Regions from separate parts of the Homo sapiens genome. Here region 2 is linked to region 1. A link means that fine-mapping ties the variant in region 1 to the expression of a gene that starts in the linked region. Tissue or cell type: whole blood. Region 1 holds a variant in brackets; the other region holds the start of a gene. All regions are shown on one strand. Distances are from middle to middle.

What was found. PIP is the estimated chance that this variant, and not a neighbour inherited with it, causes the effect.
Region 2: it holds the start of TYW2, and the variant in region 1 is fine-mapped to the expression of TYW2 in whole blood (INTERVAL, PIP above 0.99).

What each region holds. Positions count from the first base shown.
Region 1 is chr8:124,575,908-124,586,872 of GRCh38, reverse strand. MTSS1 (MTSS I-BAR domain containing 1) reads left to right here. Exons shown (of 14, transcript NM_014751.6): 6 at 1,712-1,786. It overlaps LOC105375740 (a long non-coding RNA gene), which reads right to left. Exons shown (of 2, transcript XR_928608.3): 2 at 6,222-7,295. Among named protein-coding and RNA genes, the nearest start is that of NDUFB9, 42 kb to the right of the region's middle. The variant G/TTG (reference allele first, on the strand shown) is at 5,586.
Region 2 is chr8:124,445,085-124,456,049 of GRCh38, reverse strand. It overlaps TYW2 (tRNA wybutosine-synthesizing protein 2), which reads right to left and starts at 5,230. Exons shown (of 1, transcript NM_017956.4): 1 at 3,024-5,230. The coding sequence starts at 5,122. The coding sequence ends at 3,776.

The DNA.
Region 1 (10,965 bases):
CCCTCCTTCCCATTCCCACTGCATACAGAGAAGCACGTCTCAATTTTCTTCTTTGGGGTCACATACAGAGATGAAGAGCCTAGGCCTGAATGTGAATTGAGACCCATTGTCCGGCCTGCATACCTGCTAAGTGGCCTGTCTGCACAGGGGCCAAGAGGTTGTGGGGTACAAAGCTCCTAACCCCCAGCCTCGGTGACACAGCACTTCCTTCATCTTTTCGATTCAGCCTTTAACTCAGGGAGCGCGACCCGAGTAGCAGCCACACGCAACCCACTCTGCTAGCCCAAGATGCTCAGACATGACCCAGGCACTGCTGCGTCCCCTGGGGAGCTTGTAGGGGGAGGGAGGAGAGACTGTAGGGCAGAGCACAGGATGTTGGGGGAGAGAGATACAGGGAGCCCCAGAGGTTGGAGAGGTTTGGTTGAGGAATTAGAAAATGAGGCACCATTTGGAGGGATCCCAGTAGGTGTACATGGTTTCATCACGCTGACGTTAGAGCAGTGAAGGGGCCCTAGCCAGATAGAAAACTGTGCAGATAGGCAGGGAAGATGGGGGAGTGGCCAGAAAAGAGTGGAGAGCTGCCACGCTGCACAGTGATTCCAGGTGTGTATAAATAGGCTTAGGGCCAGTAGAAGGGAAACCTCAGAGCTGGCTGCAAGGGAGCTGGCCAAGGTGAAATGTACAGCAGCTGGCAATTAATTGACTGTGAGGGCAGCAAAGGGAAAAGTGTCACAGGTGACCATCATCCCAGGTGTCTATGTCTGGGTGATGAGGATGCCAGCAACAGAAATGGGGCAGTCTGCGAATGGGCCAGTGGTGGAGGAGGAAGTGCTTGGCAGGGGATGTGGTGCACTTGGACTGCCCCTCTGAGGTGTTTGTGGTATCTAGCCACAGGATTCATGCTGAAAGTAAGGCAGCTGGTTCTTCTTGCCCAGTCTCCCCACTGTGTGATCTAGCTTCTCCTGCTGTATGAGACACTTTTTCTGGATTTTAACATCTGCCCAGCATCTTTTCCACATAGGGGTTTTTTGTTTTTTGTTTGTTTTTTTGTTTTTGCAAAACACTGTGGATTTGGGCCCGGGGAAAGTAGATAATATTGAAAAATCTTTCCGGATACTTGAGCTGAGAAATTGTGAATTTTTTTCATTTTTACTAAAGTATTCCCCGCCAGGCATGGTGGCTCATGCCTGTAATCCCAGCACTTTGGGAAGCCAAGGATCACTTGAGGTCAGGAGTTCAAGACCAGCCTGGCCAACATGGTGAAACCCCATCTCTACTAAAAGTACAAAAATTAGCTGGGCGTGGTGGTGGGCGCCTGTAATCCCAGCTACTCAGGAGGCTGAGGTGGGAGAATCGCTTGAACTCGGGAGGTGGAGGTGGCAGTGAGCCGAGATCATGCCACTGCACTCCAGCCTGGGCCACAGAACAAGACTCTGTCTTAAAAAAAAAAAAAGTATTCCCAAACGGAGCCTCCCTTCAAAGCTGGTATGAGTGAATATGACAGGGCAAGACCACTGTGCATTTTGTTTTCGTGTCTCTAGCCCCTTTGTTGTAAATGTCATCATGAGATTATCATATTGTATTCTGATAAAGCCATTGACGGCATGTCACAGTTTATGCTTTCTGTGATAAATGTAATGGCTGTTTCCTACCTAACATATTTTCTGTTAAGCAAAGTGGTAAAATTGTTCCATATTCTGCTTTCTCTTAGAATATAAGAAAGCCCGCCAAGAGATAAAAAAGAAGTCCTCGGATACGCTGAAACTGCAGAAGAAAGCAAAAAAAGGTAACTCCTAAAATTCTGCCACTGATGTTACTTCCTGATGGAGTACTTGATTTGTTTTTGAAGTGAAAGGTGTTCACTTCAGAGACTTCCTTAAGTATGACGGCCCTGGAAAACAGGTGGGAGCAAATAGGACCTATCTGAGTTCACATTCTCAAAGTGCAGAATAGGTATTAATTTGAGGCCTTTGCCAAGTGGTACTTGACGTGTTCCTTCCCCCACCTTTGTCTTCCAAGTTTGACAGTTTCCATGCCTATTGTGCTTCGTAATGATACCTATAAATTTCTTAGAAGCCTTGGGATAATGCAGAAAGGCCTTTATGCAAATGTTCTCTAGTAATTATTACAGAAATTATGTCATTTTCTCCTGCAGCTTTCACAGCCTATAATCTTCAAAACCCTTTATTAAGTCTTGTGAGAATGCTAGGAATGGGTGCAGGGGAAGCTGGGAGTCATGGCCATACAGGGGATTTTCCATGGTGTTCATGAGGGAGGAGCTTGATAATCTACCACTGAGCACAACCAGGCAAGATGCCTTTCCCCCACATCCTTGTTTATCCTCCTTCACAAACAAATGAATCGTCAGATCTTTGACCCACCTTTGTTCCTCCAGAATGGACTGGGAGTTTGAAGAGAAAAATCTAGCAGCATCCACTTTGCAAGCACTTGTGACATTTTACTACCACCTAAAAATGTAGGGACTTTCTCCTGAGCTAGAGAAGGTGACATTCCTTCCAGTCTATTCTTCTTTGACACCAAGTTTCTGAATCTGCTGCTTCACAACTGATAAGATGGGATTCTTCCGTCAGGCTGCTCTGTGGGTGGTGTTTACCATTAATTTGAGACAACCTTTTCGAGTTGGGATCCCCCAGCCTGAATTTTCTCTCCCCTAAACCAGCGTTCTCTGTTGGAAATAGAAGACACATTTGTAGAGATGGGATTGTGGAGGGTGGTGTGTAGTGGGGTGATGATAGGACACAGTTTTTAACCTTGAACATTTCTATAAAATGAGCCCCCCACCCTGAATTTTCACAACAACCATAAACCCATTTTGAGATAAAGGCAGCAGAATTTTCACCCACAATCAGATTTTCCATCAGCATTGGCCCCAGCAGTTTCTTTCGTATGTTTTATTTTAGTCTGGAGCTTCTCAGATTTGTATCCTATCTAACCAGGGCACCTGGGAGCTAGTGTTTGACAAGTAATAGGGTTTGTGACATAGTAACATTTTAGTGACTGTAGAGGTAAGCATTTATAAGTAAAATTACTACCATATTCCATGAAGTCTGAGGCCCGGAAGAGAGCAGGCTGGTCACAGTTCGGGGCTGAACTCCACATAACTGACAGGTTGGCAGCTTTGAGAGAGGAAGGATTCCTGGGCTGGGAGAGGTGGTCCAGGGAAGATGCTTAGGCTTAGAAAAGGTTTGGGAGTTTGGTGAAAAGGATGAAGGAAGAAAAAGTGGCTGTTTTCCCTCAGCTCTTCCACCACTCAGTTTTCAGAGGCCCTAAGTTCTTGGCTACAGTGATAATCCTTTTATCTAAGTTCTGCATGGAGGCTGAATTGGTTGTCCTCTGTCACTCAAAGTCACTGGCATTGCCCAATTAGCAGAATTTATACCTCTGGGTGAAGCCTGATAGGGTGATTGCAATGCAACATCAAAAGAAGTTTCTGGCAATTAGACCTTCCTAGCACTGGCTCGGGCTGCCTGCAGGATAATGAGCTCCCTATCAAGGCTGGATAGGAAGATATGGGACCCATAGAATGCTGGACTGTGCATAACATGAAGAGAGGCATCTGGCCCTGGGACTTGGGAATGATTGGCATTCAGTTGTGTGGTTTCTTAGGGCACATTGGCCTGACAGATGAGAGAATGGAGGTTGGGATCAGGGGTTTCTGAAGCATCTGTCTTCTCAGCCACAGCCTCACACCAGCAGTCTCTGGCACCGTGTCTTTTCCACACGGTGGACTTAGGTCCACGAGATCGGTCAGATCCATAGCTTGGAATGTTCTAGAGAATTTCTAGTTACTTCAAGATACCACCAGAAAATAATTTTTATTTCTGTCCTTTATAAAGATTTTTTTCTAAAATCAGTAAGTGCAGTTTTGGACCAGGTGTTCTATTTGTATATTTCTGGGATGAAAGCAGCCTTCTGAAAGGTACTAGAGTCACATTCGGACTGGAATCTTTTATGGAGAGCTCTCCTAGGAGGCATATGTATGGCTGAGAATGGACTGAAGAAAACACAACTCACTTAAGGGCTGGAAGAAATCTGGTCATTTGAGGCTTTCAGTTGTTTAGGGGTCTGGTTAGCTGACATTTCCCTTTCTACTAGAACACCTCGAGGGATCTGTTTCATCTCCTTCAAGTGGCAGATTCCCGGACCCTCGGTTTGTAAAAGTGTTAGCAGTTCCTTCTGACGCACCACGCGTTCGGATGGATGAAGGTTTTGGATACATTTTTTTTTTTGTCCTGATAGACGGAATCTGATGTATGCAGCCAGATAATCACTTCCTTTTTAATATGTTTCCAGGAGATTCTCAAGCAGCTTCCTGCCATGCCTTTTTCAAAAACTCTGATCTTTGATCTAAAAATTCTCTGGACTCTCCTTTTAGCATTTCAAGTGCCTTTGTGCATGTAAGCATGGTTTTACCACCATCCTTGACGTGGGCAGACACACACGGATGTGATTTTTGTGAGCGGCTCACTTTCCTTCTTACTCTGCAGATACCACCTTTTATCACATTCTTCGACTCTTTCTTACTATATAGAGAGGTGGTTTGTAATCTAAAGGTGTTTAAATATTTCCTTCAAGAAACTTTCAATGGTTTGCCTTTGGTAGGTTTTATCTCAAAATCATTTTTTAGCAGCTTGGGATATGCTATGGCTGTGGATGAGTGTGCCTGTTTTTCTTGAAGGCAAGCTTGTCAGATGCCTACTAGAAGTAAACACGAGGCAAGGAGTTAGCCAGTCCTCACCCTCAGAGAAATTCTGGGCTCGTGCACAGGGTCAAGAGCACGGGGCAGAGCCAGCATTGCCGACAGGTGGAGGGACGGAGGCGGCAGGATGCTGGGGAGATGGTGTGGAGCGGACCCAGTAACCCCAGGCTCTGAACAGTGTCTCTTGAGCCCTCTTCCTGCTCCATGATAATCAGCTTATTGCCTTGGAGGTCTTGGAGTTGACCACGACCCAATGGGGAAAAGTAAGAGAGAGCATCAGAAATGAGAGGCGTTTTACATTGTATTTACCTACGTGTGCCACCCAACCGTATGAACTCAGCAGCCTTATTCTCATTTAACTCCCATGTTACTATCAATGTGAATTAAAAATTAATTCTGGGCTGTGCGTGGTGGCTCACGCCTGTAATCCCAGCTCTTTGGGAGGCTGAGGCGGGTGCATCATGAGGTCAAGAAATCGAGACCATCCTGGCCAACATGGTGAAACCCCATCTCTACTAAAAATACAAAAATTAGCCGGGCGTGGTGGCGGGCGCCTGTAGTCCCAGCTACTCGGGAGGCTGAGGCAGGAGAATTGCTTGAACCTGGAAGGTGGAGGTTGCAATGAGCCAAGATTGCACCACTGCACTCCAGCCTGGGCAACGGAGGGAGACTCTGTCTCAAAAAAAAAAATAAAAAAATTCTGGTAAAGCCTTCTGTTTCCATCTGTAACTACAAAAAGTTTATAAGGGATTTTTAAAAATAATAATGGCCAGCATTCATTAGGTACTTATTATGGTCACTGTTCCACTTATTACCATGACATCATTAAATCTAAGAAGTCTTGATTTTTTTTTTTTTTTTTTTT[G/TTG]AGTCAGCATCTCACTAGGTGGCCTAGGCTGACCTCAAACTCCTGGGCTTCAGGGATCTTCCCGCCTCAGCCTCCCTAGTAGCTGGGATTACAGGCACACACCACTGCGCCCAGCAGGGACTTTTCTTGAGAGAGAGAGAACTGGAACATTATAATATGTTAACTGCACAGCTGACATGTAAATAGTTGACTCTCTCACTTTCCACTAGAGGCTGCAAAGCCAATGTTATAAATGTAATAAACAGACTCACAGAGTTCTATACGAGCATAGTATTTGCTGTTATACTACAATTTTAAACTCTTTAATTTTTTTTTTCCATTTTCATCCCACCCTAAGCTTTGTTTCCTAGGAATTTCCTAGATATTTTTCAAGTGATGGTAAATGACACTCGAAAGGTTTTCTTGCCAAAGCTTGGCTTCTTCTGGGTATATATTCTTCATCTCTCTTTTTAAAAATCCTTGCTGTCTTCTCTAGGGGTGGTCATTACTAACTGGGAAGGTTTTGTTTAGATGAGAAGGAAGGAAGATATTAGTAAGGCAGAGAAGGGGAATGTGGATGTGGGTTTAATCAGCCCTAATAGAAAATTTGGTGGCGAGCCATGGACTGTTTAACACATGAAACAAAGGTAAGACTGCTGCTGCTTGAATACCAGTTTGACTTTATTATTTTCCTTTTTGTGTCAATTGTGTATCCTGCACTTTCTCACCGTGTGCCCCCCCGCCAGTGGACACTCTTGGTAAGTCTACCATCCCAAATCTCTGGTGGCTGCTCACGGTGTGGTCCTTGCTGTGGGCTTTCCGTGGTTGTCCAGACCTCTGCTAGCTGCCCAGGTTTTTCTACCAGCTCAAAACAATCAACTGTGCCTACCTAATTTTCCACAACTTTAAGAAAATTGTGTGTGCGTTGTGTTTTAATTGTTTTCTTTTTTGGATGTTTAGCCATTTACGATGTTAGCACAACACTCTGAGAGCCTTTGAATCATCGTAATTCAATATTAGACTCATGGAAAAAAGAAATACAGAGTGACTTAAACTGTCATTTCCACAGTCAATAAGCATTTTTGCATACATATATACCTGCGTATGTATGTATGTATATATTTATGCCACAAACAGAGCTGCAAGCCTCAAAATAATTCTCAAATCAGATTTGGTTGTGTTAAGCTTGCAAAACATCTTTAACTTTGTCCTGTCTGCAAGACCATATAGTTCTTTCCATAACCAATGATTCATTTTTTAAAAAATAAATCAAAAGTATTTCTTATTTCAGTAGAGTTTGTGAAATGTTTCATTTCAGAAGTATCAGATCTTCCAATTAAGTAATCAGAATGATTCTTCTTGACTGAATGTTGAACTTCACTCTGTGGATGATCATGCTGCCAAAACTTCAAGTTGCTTTTGGAGTCTTGTTGCTGTCCCTCTGTCCTGGGAGGTCTGTCTGCGAGGTGTCTGTGTGGTTTATCTTGCCTGAGTGTGCCCAGGTGTTCCCTGAGCATTTTACTGAACAGCTCCAAAGAGGCTTTTGAAGTGGCTTCTGTCATTTACAGCAAACCCAGTGCACAAAGGTCTCCTTTGATGGTTGGGGCTGACACGGCCTCTATTTCCCCTCATGGCGATGTTGGGCTAGTGGTTCCCCAACTTTAAAAAGGATCATCCTTTCCAGTTCTCAACATTGTGATTATGAAACAGCTTGCACAGTTTCTAGTAAACCTTTGGAAGGAAGGTAAGACACAGTCACTGTTTTGCTTATTGCAGTAAAATTCACATCACAGAATTTATCATTTTAGCCGTTCTGAAGTATAAGTTTCAGTGGCTTTTAGTACATTCATGGTGTTATGCAACCATCGCCACTATCTAATTTCACAACATTTTCATTATCCCCGAAAGACACCTCATGCCCATTAAGCAGTCCCTCCCTGTTTCACAGTCTCCCCACCCACGCTGACCCTGACAACCACTCATCTGCCTTCTGTCTCTGGATTTGCCTATTCTGGACATTTTATACAAATGGAATCATGTAGTACACAGCCTTTTGAGGACACAGTCCCTTGAGTCTTGAGTTTTACTGGAACCTTTGCCGAGAGCCTGACATGAGTCAGTTCATGGAGTAAATAGAGCATTTTATTTATTTGAAATGATGGGAGGTCAGTTTGGAATGAATAAAGAAACTGTATAGCCTTTTGACTTTGTAAGTTCTAAAGATTCTGCTTATCTTTCAAAGAGAAATCTCTGCAACCCCCTTTAATTTTTTCTCTTGTAGGGGCTGGTTCATAGGCAAAGCCACAGTGAATTTGGGTATAAATACACAAGAAAAGCTATATGATTTGTAGCTCTCATAAATGTTTAAAATATTTATACAGAGAGAAAAAAATAATTCTTTAATTATTTTTAACAGTTGGCTTGGCTGGGCGCGTTGGCGTGGTGGCTCATGCCTGTAATCCCAGCACTTTGGGAGGCCTAGGTGGGCAGATCACCTGAAGTCAGGAGTTCGAGACCAGCCTGGCCAACATGGTAAAACCCCATCACGATCAGTGACACGATCTCGGCTCACTGCAACCTCCGTCTCCTGGGTTCAAGCAATTCTCCAGCCTCAGCCTCCCAAGTAGCTGGGATTACAAGTGCCTGCCACCACACCCGGCAAATTTTTCTATTTTTAGTAGAGACGGGGTTTTGCCATGTTAGGCAGGATGGTCTTGAACTCCTGACCTCGGGTGATCCTGTTGCCTTGGCCTCCCAAAGTGCTGGGATTACAGGTGTGAGCCACCCTGCCAGCCAGTGCTGGGATGAATATAAGCAAAAGGTGTAACCTGGGGGCAGAGAGGAAGGAGCCTCACTAAGCCTGGGGGTAGGGTAGTGATAATGAGGAGGAGCATGAGGGGTCAGCTGTTGAAGAATGAGGAGGGGATATTCAAGGTGGAGAGGACAGCGTGCACCAACACATGGCTCTTGTCATTTAGAAAGGAGCATCAGCAACAGTGGTGAAGGGTAGACGTGTCACACTGTGTGTGTGATGCTCCAGGGACAGCCTTGAGGCAGGGCTGTCGTCCCACCAAGGGTGGACTGTGTGCATAGAGAACCATAGTGACCCCTGGCTACTCAGCCTCTGGCTTCCTGGACCGCGTCTCCCCACCCCACACTGACCTGCCTCCAGAATGGTTCAATCACTGGGCCTCGATTCTGATCAGACTCCAAAGTGGACCCCAAATGCCTCTCCACGTCATTCTTCCTTTCTTGGAAAAAGCCTGTGAAATGTGAATCCTTTCCTCTAGGCACAGTGGTTTGCTCATCCCCCAGCCGTATCCAGCCTATGCACTCACCCACAGGAATGTTTCTTGTGTTTACAAAACCAGCAGAAAGCACTCTCAGAATGACCCTGAGACCTGCAGTCAATGGATCAATGGCTCTGCCTCTATGGTAAAAATTGAATCTGTGTAGATTCCCTGCAACCCCACCCCCATTGATTTTTGAGGAGGGATAGTACTAGGAGCTCTCCTTCCCACAGGGATGTCAGTGGAGTGAGGAGGAAGAACAAGGAGCAGAGGGTGGGATGGTTCCAGCCAGTTCTTCGAGGCTAAGCCCAGGGCTTAGAAGGCTGATGAGGAAATACAGAATGTAGGCACAGCCAGACCCCTTCTGTCTGGGTGGAAGCAGGGATGCTAGAATTTTACCCTTAGACCTATTGTGACCATCAGAAAGCTGCCCCTGACCTGAATCCATAGATGTCTGAATTTAACTCAGAAATCTCCTCCAAGGCCGGGCACAGTGGCTCATGCCTGTAATCCCAGCACTTTGGGAGGATCACTTGAGGTCATGAGTCTGAGACCAGCCTGGCCATCATGGCAAAACCCTATCTCTACTAAAAATACAAAAGTTAGCTGGGTGTGGTGGCGTGCACCTGCATTCTCAGCGACTTGGGATGCTGAGGCAGAAGAATCGCTTAAACCTGGGAGGCAGAGGTTGCAGTGAGCCGAGATCGCTCCACTGCACTCCAGTCTGGGTGACAGAGTGAGACCCTGTCTCCAAAATAAAAGAAATTTACTGCAAAGGGATGTTGCATTTCAGGTGAATGTATGTAGCCTTCAGAGGCCGGGCTATTTATTAGATGTATTTTATAACTGAGGATTCTAGGTAAACACAAGCCAAACAGATCCACCAGAAGCCTAGAGCTGTGAACTCTTCCTTTGCAAAGCTTGTCTCCAGTAAAACCTCACGTAGACACAACTCCTTGAGTGCCTTGCCCACTACTCTGGTCTCAGAATGCCCTGGGTGTGCCTGTACACAATAGGACTGTTAAGGTGCAGTGCACCTGACTTCCCTGTGGCTGCATTCAGGGGCAGGGTAGAGGTATATAGAGTATGGAGGCACGCCGGGAGCTGAGTATTTTTCTTAGCGTTAATTTTCGACCAAATACAAAACAGCAGAGAAGGAAACAGACAACTTGCTTGAAATATTTATTCCTTGCATAATATGGTTTTCATCTCCCTAGAGAACACTAACGGGATGGGCAAAGCCTGACGGAATGGCAGGGTGGGGAAGCAGTTGCTGCCTCTCTTGAGTTGCAACCCATCAGCCATTTATGGTTTTTGTAGGACTAATTGATTCACGCCTGGTGCCATTCTTCCATTCATAAACATCCTTGACTGCTGCAGATGAGTCCTGCAAAACACTCCAGCCTCCATTTATTAGTTTGTTCTTTCATTCATTCATTCAGGAAAGGGGTATGACAAGCCTCCTCTGTGCTAGACTCTGTTAGCTGCTAAGGAGGTAAAAGTAGCATCTACACTCAAGCTCTCCCCAGCACGAAGAATGCATTTATGTTCCAACATCAATTCTCTGACTGCAGCTGCTGTCCTATTCAGTTATGACACACCTAGTGTTAGTGTAGACCCCACAAGCTAAGAGTTCAGTCCCATGAGACTGCCCCAAATTCAGTCACCAGCCACAAGTGGGGTCCTCAGATTCCTCACACTTCTGCCCAGCCGACCACAAATTTGGGGTTTTCTATGACCCCCTCGCCCATCAAGTTTAATAATTCTCTAGAAGGACTTGCAGAACACAGGAAAGCACCATATTTACAATGACTGGCTTCTTATAAAGAATGCAGATTGTAGCCTTGTTTACTACATTAAAGGACTCTGCTGAAGCCCTTGAAGCCTTTTTGGCTTCTAGATAATTCCACCGTGACAGTGTGTATTTGGATTAGACTGTGGCTTAACTGGACATCCAGTTAGCAAGTGGTGGTTGTTGTCTAGGTGACAGATGATGGTGGCCTGGGCTCAGGGAAGTGACCACAGAGATAGAGAGGAAGACAGGTGGATTCAAGAGCTACTTAGGAGAAATGCAAATGAAAGAAGGAAGAGTTGAAGGCAATGGTAAATTT
Region 2 (10,965 bases), 130 kb after region 1:
ACCTCAGACATATGCATATTTACTGAGTCCTGACAAATGCTTAATTGACTGTTCCTCTACCCCACTTCACATGTAACATGTGGATTCAGTGAGCACTAATCAAAGCCTCACAAGAATGTGACCACTTAACTCACTACCTACACTCCTTTTTGTTTTTTTCCTCTACCCCTACTCCTCCTACCCTCACTTTCCCCTTTAAATACTGAAGCCCTCAAAATCCTCTTTGGAAAAATGTGTGGGCCACAGATCCTACTGTGACTTGTGTCTTTTTCCCATGTGTGTCCTCAACCTTGGCAAAATAAGCCTCTAAACTGATTGAGACCTGTCTCAGATACTTTTTATTTTACAAAAGTATTCACCACTCAGTGAGTCACGATGATGACAGCTTAACATATATTCATTTAAACCTAAGAACTACCCTACAGGATATGTACAATTGTTAACCCTAATGTACAGATAAGGAAACTAAATCTTGAGAGATTCATAACTTGCCTGAGGTCACCCAGAAAGTAGAGGAGTCAGGAGTTGAATGAGTGGAATCTAAATTCTAAGAGGCATTTGGGAGGCCGAGGCGGGTGGATCCCTTGATGTCAGGAGTTCAAGACCAGCCTGGCCAACATGGTGAAACCCTCTCTACCAAAAATACAAAAATTAGCCGGGCATGGTGGCAGATGCCTGTAATCCCAGCTACTCAGGAGGCTGAGACAGGAGAATTGCTTGAACCTGGGAGGCGGAGGTTGCAGTGAGCTGAGATCGCTCCACTGCACTCCAGCCTGGGCGACAGAGCGAGACTCCATCTCCAAAAAATAAAAACAAATAAATTATATGAAGGCAGAGCCATGTCAGTCTTACATCACTGCACACACAGGGCCCATATATATATGTATATATTTATTTATTTATATATTTATATATGAATATATATATTATATATGAATATATATATTATATATGAATATATATTATATATGAATATATATATATTATATATGATATATATATTATATGAATATATATATAATATATATATGAGAGAGGGAGAGTGCAAGCATGCAGGAGTCCAACAACTGTTGGTCGAATGAGTTCAACTGGCCACACCTGACATCAGCTGTCTATCCAGAGCTTGTGGCAAAAAGGCAAATCCTCAGTCCCCAGACTGACTCTCTGGCTCCTCTTCCTCATTGTTTCTCCTTGTTCCCTTCCCATATTGGCTCAACCTCCAGGTTGGTATCTTTATAGTTTGAGGACAGCAAGCCATGGACACACAAGTGAGGAAAAACCCACTATGTAAAAGAGGAGATGACTGGCTGGGCATGGTGGCTCATGCCTGTAATCTCAGCACTTTGGGAGGATGAGGCGGGCAGATCACAAGGTCAGGAGATTGAGACAATCCTGGCTAATTCGGTGAAACCCGTCTCTACTAAAAATACAAAAAATTAGCCAGGCGTGGTGACACACACCTGTAGTCCCAGCTACTTGGGAGGCTCAGGCAGGAGAATCGCTTGAACCCAGGAGGCAGAGGTTTCAGTGAGCCGAGATTGTGCCACTGCACTCCAGCCTGGGTGACAGAGTGAGACTCTATCTCAAACAAAAAAAAAAAAAAAAAGGAGGAGATGATTAAGGTAACACAGGAAGACCGCTCTGTGAGATGGGAATGGAAATAAGCAGGCTGTTTGTTTTTGTGGTGGGATCACATGCTGGCTAACATCTCCCTAGGGGATTACTGTGTACAAGACACAGTGCTTTTTTAATCCTTACAACAACCCCCATCTTCAACACATCTCTCACTGCTTCCTCTGTTCCAAACTTATCTAATAACAACATACCATTTTCTGAGGATTCAAACTTTTGCATCTGTTATTCTCTTCTACTAGTGCCTGTTTCTACCCGCAACCTACCCATCAAAATCTTACCCAGTTTTCATGAGCCAATTCAAACACTACCTCTGAAGACTTCACTATTCAGTTCTGAGAACTCCTTTCCCACCTTTTCATTCCTACAACGTGCTATCACTCACATGGCACTCATCTTACTGCATTCCAAGTCTTTCTTTGAGTACTTGTGTTATTTCTGCTGCTAGATTGTGGGTTTCTCAGAGACAGGAACTCTATCTAATGGATCGTTATGTTTCCTGTGGCTTTTGTATATAATAGGCACTTAATATTTGTTGGATAACACAAACAGCACCAACCTGTCCTTACTGCTACTGTTGCAAGAGAAGGATGAGTAGCCATGCCCAAATCCAGCCAGCCAAATGTCAGGTACAATCATACAAGGCCACACTTTTCTATATTTCCTTCACCTAGCAAACCAGCCTAGATAGCTTCAAAATACACCAGAACAAAGCTCTGAGTGGTAATCAACAATTAGTCATCTTGGGTCATGCGTGGTGGCTAACACCTGTAATCCCAGCACTTTGGGAGGTCGAGGTGGGCAGATCACTTGAGGTCAGGAGTTCCAAAACAGCTTGGCCAACATGGTGAAACCCCATCTCTACTAAAAATACAAAAATTACCTGGGCATGGTGCTGCACACCTGTAATCCCAGCTACTTGAGAGTCTGAGGCTTGAGAATCGCTTGAGCCTGGGAGGCAGAGGTTGCAGTGAGCCAAGATGGTGCCACTGCACTCCAGCCTGGGTGACAGAGCAAGACTCTGTCTCAAAAAAACAAAAAAGCAAACAAACAAAACAACAAACAATTATTCACTCCAGTGGCAAACCATCTTTTATGGCAGACAGCCATAAAATAAGGTGAGGCTGGAAATGCTCTGCAGAATATCTCACATTCCCTATAGCTTCTTAGGTTGTCCCTCCTGTTCTCAGCCACGGTAGGAAGATGAAGAGGGAGTATGAGGCCTATACGAATCTAAGATTTTAATAGGAACTTTAAACTAATAAGTATTAATTGGCAGCTATTGCACAAGCTTGAGGCTAGAAATCTAGATTCCCTATGATTTAGAACAGTGATTCGTCCTCAGCAGATGAGCTTTAAAAAAAAAAATAGACTGGTGATTCTTAACCATATTTCTACCACAACAAACCAAATTTATAAGACAACCCCTCACAATCATTTAGGAATGCCACAGTAAGGGAATGGAAATACACTAAAATAATTTTTGTTCCCTTCTCTCTCTAATTTAGTCAGTCATAATAACAAAGCAGCTTCATGTTAAGGACTTAATTCTGATTCCATTGCTTGGTCTGTCAATTTTATTTATCATATCAATCTACCTCCCATTACCACCATCCGAGTCCAAGTTACCATCACCTCAGACCTGGACAACCACAGAAGCCTCCTCACTGGTCTCTCTGTTTCCATCTTGGCCCTCCTTCAGTCAATTTTCTATATGGTAGCCAGAGCAATTTGGAAAAAGCACTGTGTCTTTCACTCTAAAATAACCGATGTCCTGTGTATAGTTGCTTAATAGTCACGTGAGACAGTTCAAAGAAACTCTCATTTTGCAAATAACGAAACCCGAGGCCAAAACATACTGAAACTTCAATTCCAGAACTGAGGTCAGAATTTGGAATTCATAATTGCACAGATGAGCCTCATTTCAATGGGCCATGCTGCTTCTCCCAAACAGGTATTTCATTTTCTGTTATCAATGAAAGACAAATGAAATAATTTGAATTGATCTAGAGCCTGCTTTCAGGGCTATAAAATATGAAAAAAACTGATCACCAGGGGACAAAAGGGATGACAACCTGGACTGAACTGATACATTTAAGGGCCACTCGCACGTGGATCCCATGTGTCCCAGGATCTACCTCCTCTAGCCAACTGAAGGACAGGGGCAGCATTCCAGATCCAGGACTATGTGATCCACATGGGGAGCATAGGATTTCACTGGTTGGATGTGCAGAATTTGTGTCTTCCATGGTTTCCCATGCACCTGCTGAAGAAGAGTGGCGATTCGAGTTTCTGCAGATTCTGCCCACCTTTGCCACTCTGGCTTGGTGGCTGGTGACAGCATTTTTCCCCTAGAATCCCTGGTAGCTCCATTTTTCCATTGGTTGGTGGTAATTTGCTGAGGATACAGCCAATGCTCTTTCTCTACTTTGCTGACTCCAAGAGCCTGAAGATTCTTCCCTGGGAAAGATTCCACATTTTGGTGGATATGCAAAATGCCTCCAGCATCCTGCCTTAACACTTGGCAGGCAATGGGCCAGCCTTCTTCAGAGCTGGGAATCAGCCCCAGGATCACCCTATCTGCAATATTTGAGAGCTTCAGTTTTCTGTTATCTCCAAAGTGTATTTGGCACCGATCTGCTACTCCATTGATCTCAAGGTTATTTCTCAGAGCAACTACAGCATGGGGATTCCACTCACAAGCATGGACGAAGGCAGCACCAGCATGAACTAGGAAAGGCAATGTAAAATAACCAATCCCTGCATAGAGATCCACCAGCACTTCTCCAGCACAGGACAACGATGCCACTCGAAGCTTCTCAGTGATGTTTCCAAAGGAGAACATACACTGGGTCACGTCAAACTTATAACGGATACCATTATCCACATGCTCTACCCAGCCATGGTCACCCAGCAGCAGTGTCACTGCTGGAGTTCGAGTACCATCCGGTGATACCCGCCCTCGTTTTGCCAAACGCTGGACGCCAAGTGCCAAGGCAACGGTCTCCCAGAGTTCCGGTCCCAGATTTTTCCACTGCTTGGCTTGGAAACAGTCTTCACTCAGCAACAAGAGATTACCATGCCGTTGCCATGATCGGGGCAAATCAGCCTCCAACTCGGCTGACCACTTGACTCCCCGACCCTCCACCCAGCGACTCACCTCAAGACACAATTTTTGGGCAGGTGAACAACCCTGGGCCCTCTTCGAAGGAACAGGATCCGGGAGCTGCGTGAGCATACAGGGACTGCCTGGGGCAACACGATTCCTCAGCTCCTGCAGGTGCTGCTCTGGAAGCGTCTCTCCCAGCACCGGTAGCGCCACCGAGCCATCCGGCATCTTTTCCACACGGTGCTGTGTATCAAAGAGTTTCTGCCTCTGGAGATATTCTCTGTATCGCTGGGTAAACCAAGGCTCAGTCACAACTGCGACAACAGCCACGGGCTTCCCACTTTCTCTCTCCATGTTGCTAACAACCACATTCTCTCTCATCACCTCAGCGATACTCCATCTCCTCAGAGTCGGCTCACCAGGCTGACTAAATTCCCGGTCTTAAATAAGGTAGCCTGCAGCTCACCCGGCCATGCCGGTGCCGGAAATGACGTGCAAAGAGGCCGGAACTAAATATATTGATGCGCTTGCTTGAGAATGGCGTTGCCGTTGCTGTGGAGAAGCTGCGGCCGCCATCTTTTTTATGGTCAACCATTACTTTTTTTTCAGCCTAGGAAGACATTTATAACAGGGAATCTTATGGACTAAAAGACTTCAAATTGCTATTTTCCAGAAACCTCATGCACTCTCTTCAGTGCTGCTCATGAATTCAAAGAGAAAAATTAACATGAAATTGTCAGAGGCGCATGAACCAGAGCAACTCCATCTTAAATAGGAGCTGGGTAAAATGAGGCTGAAACCTACTGGGCTGCATTCCTAGACGGTTAAGGCACTCTAAGTCGCCAGATGAGATAGGAAGTCAGCATAAAATACAGGTCAAAAAGACCTTGCTGATAAAACAGGTTGCAGTGAAGGAGCGGCCAAAATCCACCAAAACTAAAATGGCCACGAGAGTGACCTCTGGTGGTGCTCACTGCTACACTCCCACCAGCGCCATGACAGTTTACAAATGCCATGGCAACGTCAGGAAGTTACCCTATATGGTCTAAAAAGGGGAGGCATGAATAATCCACCCCTCGTTTAGCATATCATCTGGAAATAACCATAAAAATGGGCAACCAGCAGCCCTCATGGCTGCTCTGTCTATGGAATAGCCATTCTTTTATTCCTTTACTTTCTTAATAAACTTGCTTTCACTTTGCACTGCGGACTTGCCCTGAATTCTTTCTTGCATGAGATCCAAGAACCCCATGTTGTAGTCTGCATTGGGACCCCTTTCCTGTAACAAAATGATGATCTGAATTTGGAGAAAGCTTTCCCATAGCCTAATGCTGCTCTCAGGTTAGCATCAGCAGCCACCTTATTTTCTGAAAGTGAAGAGTCAGATACAGCTCCCTTTTTCCCTTTTCATGCAGATATAGTCATCACTGTTTCATTGTCCTTTGGTCCAAGAAACAACTATTTGAAAGTCAGAAGGATCTGAGTTCCAGTAAATCGTATCACCCCTCAAAATTGGAATCTTCACTTATAAAATGGAATCTAATCTTCAGAAGATTGCTATAGTGAGTAGAGACATTATAGTGTCTTAGACAATAACTAGTAAAGAGTAGATACTTAAAAAGATACAAAGTAACAAGTTGGCTAGCTCACAGGTACTAAATACCTGTTGAAATGCTTTGATATTCCTAAAGAAGACAAAGGGGAATTCCATATAGACTAAATCAAATAGTTGGATATAAGAACTGTAAAGAAACCCTATCACTTCTACTTCACTCCCGCTGTCAGAGGAGTCCAAACCAGAGTGACTCCATCTTGAATAAAGGCTGAATAAAGCAAAACCTGCTGGGTTACATTCCCAGAAAGTTAAGTACTCTCCATAATAAGACTGAGGCAGGAAAATAGGGTCTGGAGGCAGGGAACCTAAGGCTGATTCACACTGACTTCGTAGAACTAAATCAAAAGGAAAAAACCAACTATCTATGCCTAAGTAACAGAAGGACCAGAGGTTACTCCCTTTGCAAACCTGCTTTTCTGCAGGGCAGAAGGAAAATTGAAAGTACCTCTGATTGGTTGCAGAAAGCCACCAATCAATCCAAATACCCACTAGAGGTTTCCCATTGGCCACTTGGTGTGCACTCCATGCAAATGAAATAATGGCCTCAATCAGACGTTTGCATAGGAGTGCAACTTTGTAACTTTACTTCAGCCTCTGATTGCAGGCCACTACTTCATTTGCATGGGGTGAACACCAAGTGACCAGTAAGAAACCTCTAGTGGGTATTTGGACCCCAGAAGATTCTGTAACCCAGCTGTTGAGCCCCTAGACAGGGGCTGCTCCCATCCTGGGGAGTGTACTTTCATTTTCAATAAATCTGATTTTGTTGCTTCATTCTTTCCTTGGTTTGTACATTTTGTCCAATTCTTTGTTCAAGATGTCACGAACCTGGACACCCTCTACCCATAACAAGACCTTTTGGCTGAACGAGCTAATGATTCTTACTCACTAAACAAGACCCAGAACTTAAGAAGATGTCCTGATATCTTGAGAACAGAAAGCATTATTAGTTTAAGAATAGGTTTCTCTTTAAAGATAATAGTATTTTCATAAATGTTTGCTGAAATCAATAGTTACACAGAGAATAACACTACTAATACTCTGTCACAAGTGGATCACAAGCTGTTGTACTAAAGCACATGAGACCATTATTCTTAGCTAGCTACATAATTTTTGGTGTGGGGTCCTCCTCTCGCCTTCTGAGAACACCCTACTCTGTAATAGAGTAGTCTTTAATAAACTTGCTTCTTTCACTGTGCTCTGTGACTGGCCCTAAATTCTTTCCTGTCTGAGATCCAAGAACCTGTTTTTTGGGTCTGGAACAAAATTCCTTTTAAGTAACATTTCCTGTGGCAACTCCCAAGGACTTTATTGAGGTGAGACCTTCAACCCAAAAGAAATAGACTGCGCAGGACCAACTGACTGACTTTGGGTAAGAAGGGGAATACATTTTTATACCGATGAAGGACAAGGACACTTATCTAAGATTGGGTTTGAGGCCTACTTGGGAGGATTAAAGGCCCCTCACAGCTGAAAATGGGTTTAGCACAATGGGATGTTAACCATTATTCACTGTGGATTCGTCCTCCTTGTGCTCTCTGTAAGAGCTTTCCAAAGGCTGCCACTTGCCAGTTTCCTGATTGCTTTCTATGCTTTACTGCTACTTTATGAGAGAGATCTTGTTGAACTGGTCCTGAGGTTTTTAACTTTCCTTTTTCTTGTTTGCCTTTGGGTTATGGGCCATTTGCCTGTTGTTCTGGCATGTTGCTAGAAGACATTGGGGACAAATGGCTCTGTAATATTTACTTTCCCTAGATCTAGACCACTTAAATGAATTGTTTATTGTCTCTCCTTTTTTGCAAAGCTTACTTGGAATTTCGCATTTACAAGTTTTAAATGAAAAGGTCCAATGTGAAAGATTAAGCCTGGCAGCAATTATACCAGTCCCCCCTAGGTGAACTGCTCCAGGATGGAAAACTGGAGATTGCTTTTCAGCAGTTCTTTTTCATCTCCTTGCTAATGGAATGACTTTTACTTTTTGGTTACAAATGGCAAGGCCATGTAAATCTTGTCCTGCTTGCCGCTACTGGCCTGAACTTGGACATTCCTTTCTAGAACTTTGTCATTTCCCTTCTCTAGTGAAACATTTCTTTTGCTGAGTCCCCTATTGTGGTCTTTACTTTTGATTACCTAATAATCTTTTGGTTTCTGTGTTAACTTGGACAATTCTTCCCCGTGGGTTTAGGGACAGGCTTTACTTTCTTCCTTTATGTGGCTGAGAAACAAGGGACAGCCCTAAATGTTCTTGTCTAGAAACAGGGATACATCCCTTGACCCATGGCATATTTTTCTAACCAATTGACCATGTGGCTTCAGGATGACTCAGATGTTTCAGGGCAGTTGCAACAACTGCTCTTCTCATAGATGAAGACAATAAATTAACTTTGGGACAACATCTGGAGGTTTTGACCCCACACCAAATAACAGAGGCCCTAGAAGCTAAAGGGCACCAATAGATGAGTAGGGGATAGTTATTAAATTATCAGGCTTTATTGCTAGATACTCTTGATATAACTCTTAAAGTATAACAGAAGACCTTAATCCTAGCTACGTATCTACTTGGATCCAAAGGCACCCTAGATCATTCATGTACACAAGCTATGGAACAAATTTATTCCAGCTGGCAGGATTTAAAAGACGGGCCACTAGGGCTGGGTGTGGTGGCTCACACCTGTAATCCCAGTACTTTGGGAGGCTGAGGCAGGCGGATTACTTGAGGTCAGGAGTTCCAGAACAGCCTGGCCAACATGGTGAAACCCCATTTGTACTAAAAATACAAAAATTACCTGGGCGTGGTGGTGCACACCTGTAGTCCCAATTACTCAGGAGGCTGAGGGAGGAGAATCACTTGAACCCAGGAGGCAGAGCTTGCAGTAAGCCAAGGTCATGCCACTGCACTCCAGGCTAGAGACAGAGCGAGACTCTGTCTCAAAAAAGGATAATAATTTTAAAAAAGAATTAACATGTACACAAACTCCAAGTATGGCTTTCTGGTGCTTCATGCTCATGCTGCTATTTGGAAATAATGGGGACTCTTTAACTTCTAAGGGCTCCCCTATAGAACATTATTTGGGAATTTTAAATCTACTAGATGCTTCCTTGCTGCCTAAGGAAGTTGCTGTGATTCACTGCAAGGGACATCAAAAAGAAAACTCCAAAATATGCCAGGCACTGTGGCTCACACCTGTAATCCCAGCACTTTGAGGGGCTAAGGCGGGCGGATCATGAGGTCAGGAGTTCGAGACCAGGCTTGCCAACAGGGTGAAACCCCATCTCTACTAAAAATACAAAAATTAGTTGGGCGTGGTGGCTCGTGCCTGTAATCCCAGCTACCTGGGAGGCTAAGGCAGGAGAATTGCTTGAACCTGGGCAGCAGAGGTTGCAGTGAGCCTGAGATCGTGCCATTGCACTCCAGCCTGGGCAACTTGAGCAAGGCTCTGACTCAAAAAAAAAAAAAAAAAGAAAAAAAAGAAAAGAAAAGAAAGAAAGAAAACTCCAAAATAATAAAAGGGCATTCTTTTGCAGATGCTACAGCTGAGGCAGCTTCATTTGAGGGAACCAGTTAATCTGGTAGGCATGTTGGTGCCCACTGCCTTGGTGACGATAAAACTAGAGCATGGTTAATACTAGAAAAGAACAAAAATGGGCTAAGACCCATGGGTTAACTATAAGCACTTCCAGATGGCTAATTGATGAAAATGACAGATGATATGTACCAAGAGCTGATCAATGGAAAATAGTTAAGTATTGGCATGGCTCTACTCATTTGGGAAGAGATTTCTCATTTCAATTAATATGGCTCATCTGTTTATAGGGAAAGACTTTCTTTTTTTTTTTGAGACGGAGTCTCGCTCTGTCACCCAGGCTGGAGTGCAGTGGTGTGATCTCAGCTCACTGCAACCTCTGCCTCCTGGGTTCAAGCAATTCTCTGCCTCAGCCTCCCGAGTAGCTGGGATTGCAGGCATCTGCCACCATGCCCAGCTAATTTTTGTATTTTTAGTAAAGACAGGGTTTCACCATGTTGGCCAGGCTGGTCTTGAACTCCTGACCTCGTGATCCACCCACCTCAGCCTCCCAAAGTGCTGGGATTACAGGCGTGAGCCACCGTGCCTGGCCGAAAAGACTTTCTTAGAACAGTAAAACAAGTGACTTGGGCCTGTGAATTGTGTGCCCAAAAAAACCTCAAACAACCAAACTTTACCTCCTCCATTAGTAAAGCCTGTTCAGCATAGGGGGTCGTACCCAGAAGAAGATTGGCAAACACACTATACCCAAATGCCCCCATGTAAAGGATTCCAATATTTATCAGTGTTGGTTGATACCTTTCTTTACATGTTGGATTGAAGCTTTTCCTATCTGGCCTGAAAAGTCAATCAAGGTTTCTAAATTTTCATTCAAGGATATGATTCCCAGATTCAGGTTGCCTAAAAGCTTGTAGAGTGATAATGGCCCATCTTTACAGCAACAATAACCAAGACATAGCATCCGCTCTAGGAATTCAATATGGTCTTCATTCCGCATGGAGGCCACAGTCTTCAGGAAAAGTAGAAAGGACCAATCAAATTTTAGACAGGACCCTTGCTAAGCTCTGACAGGAAACATCAGAAAC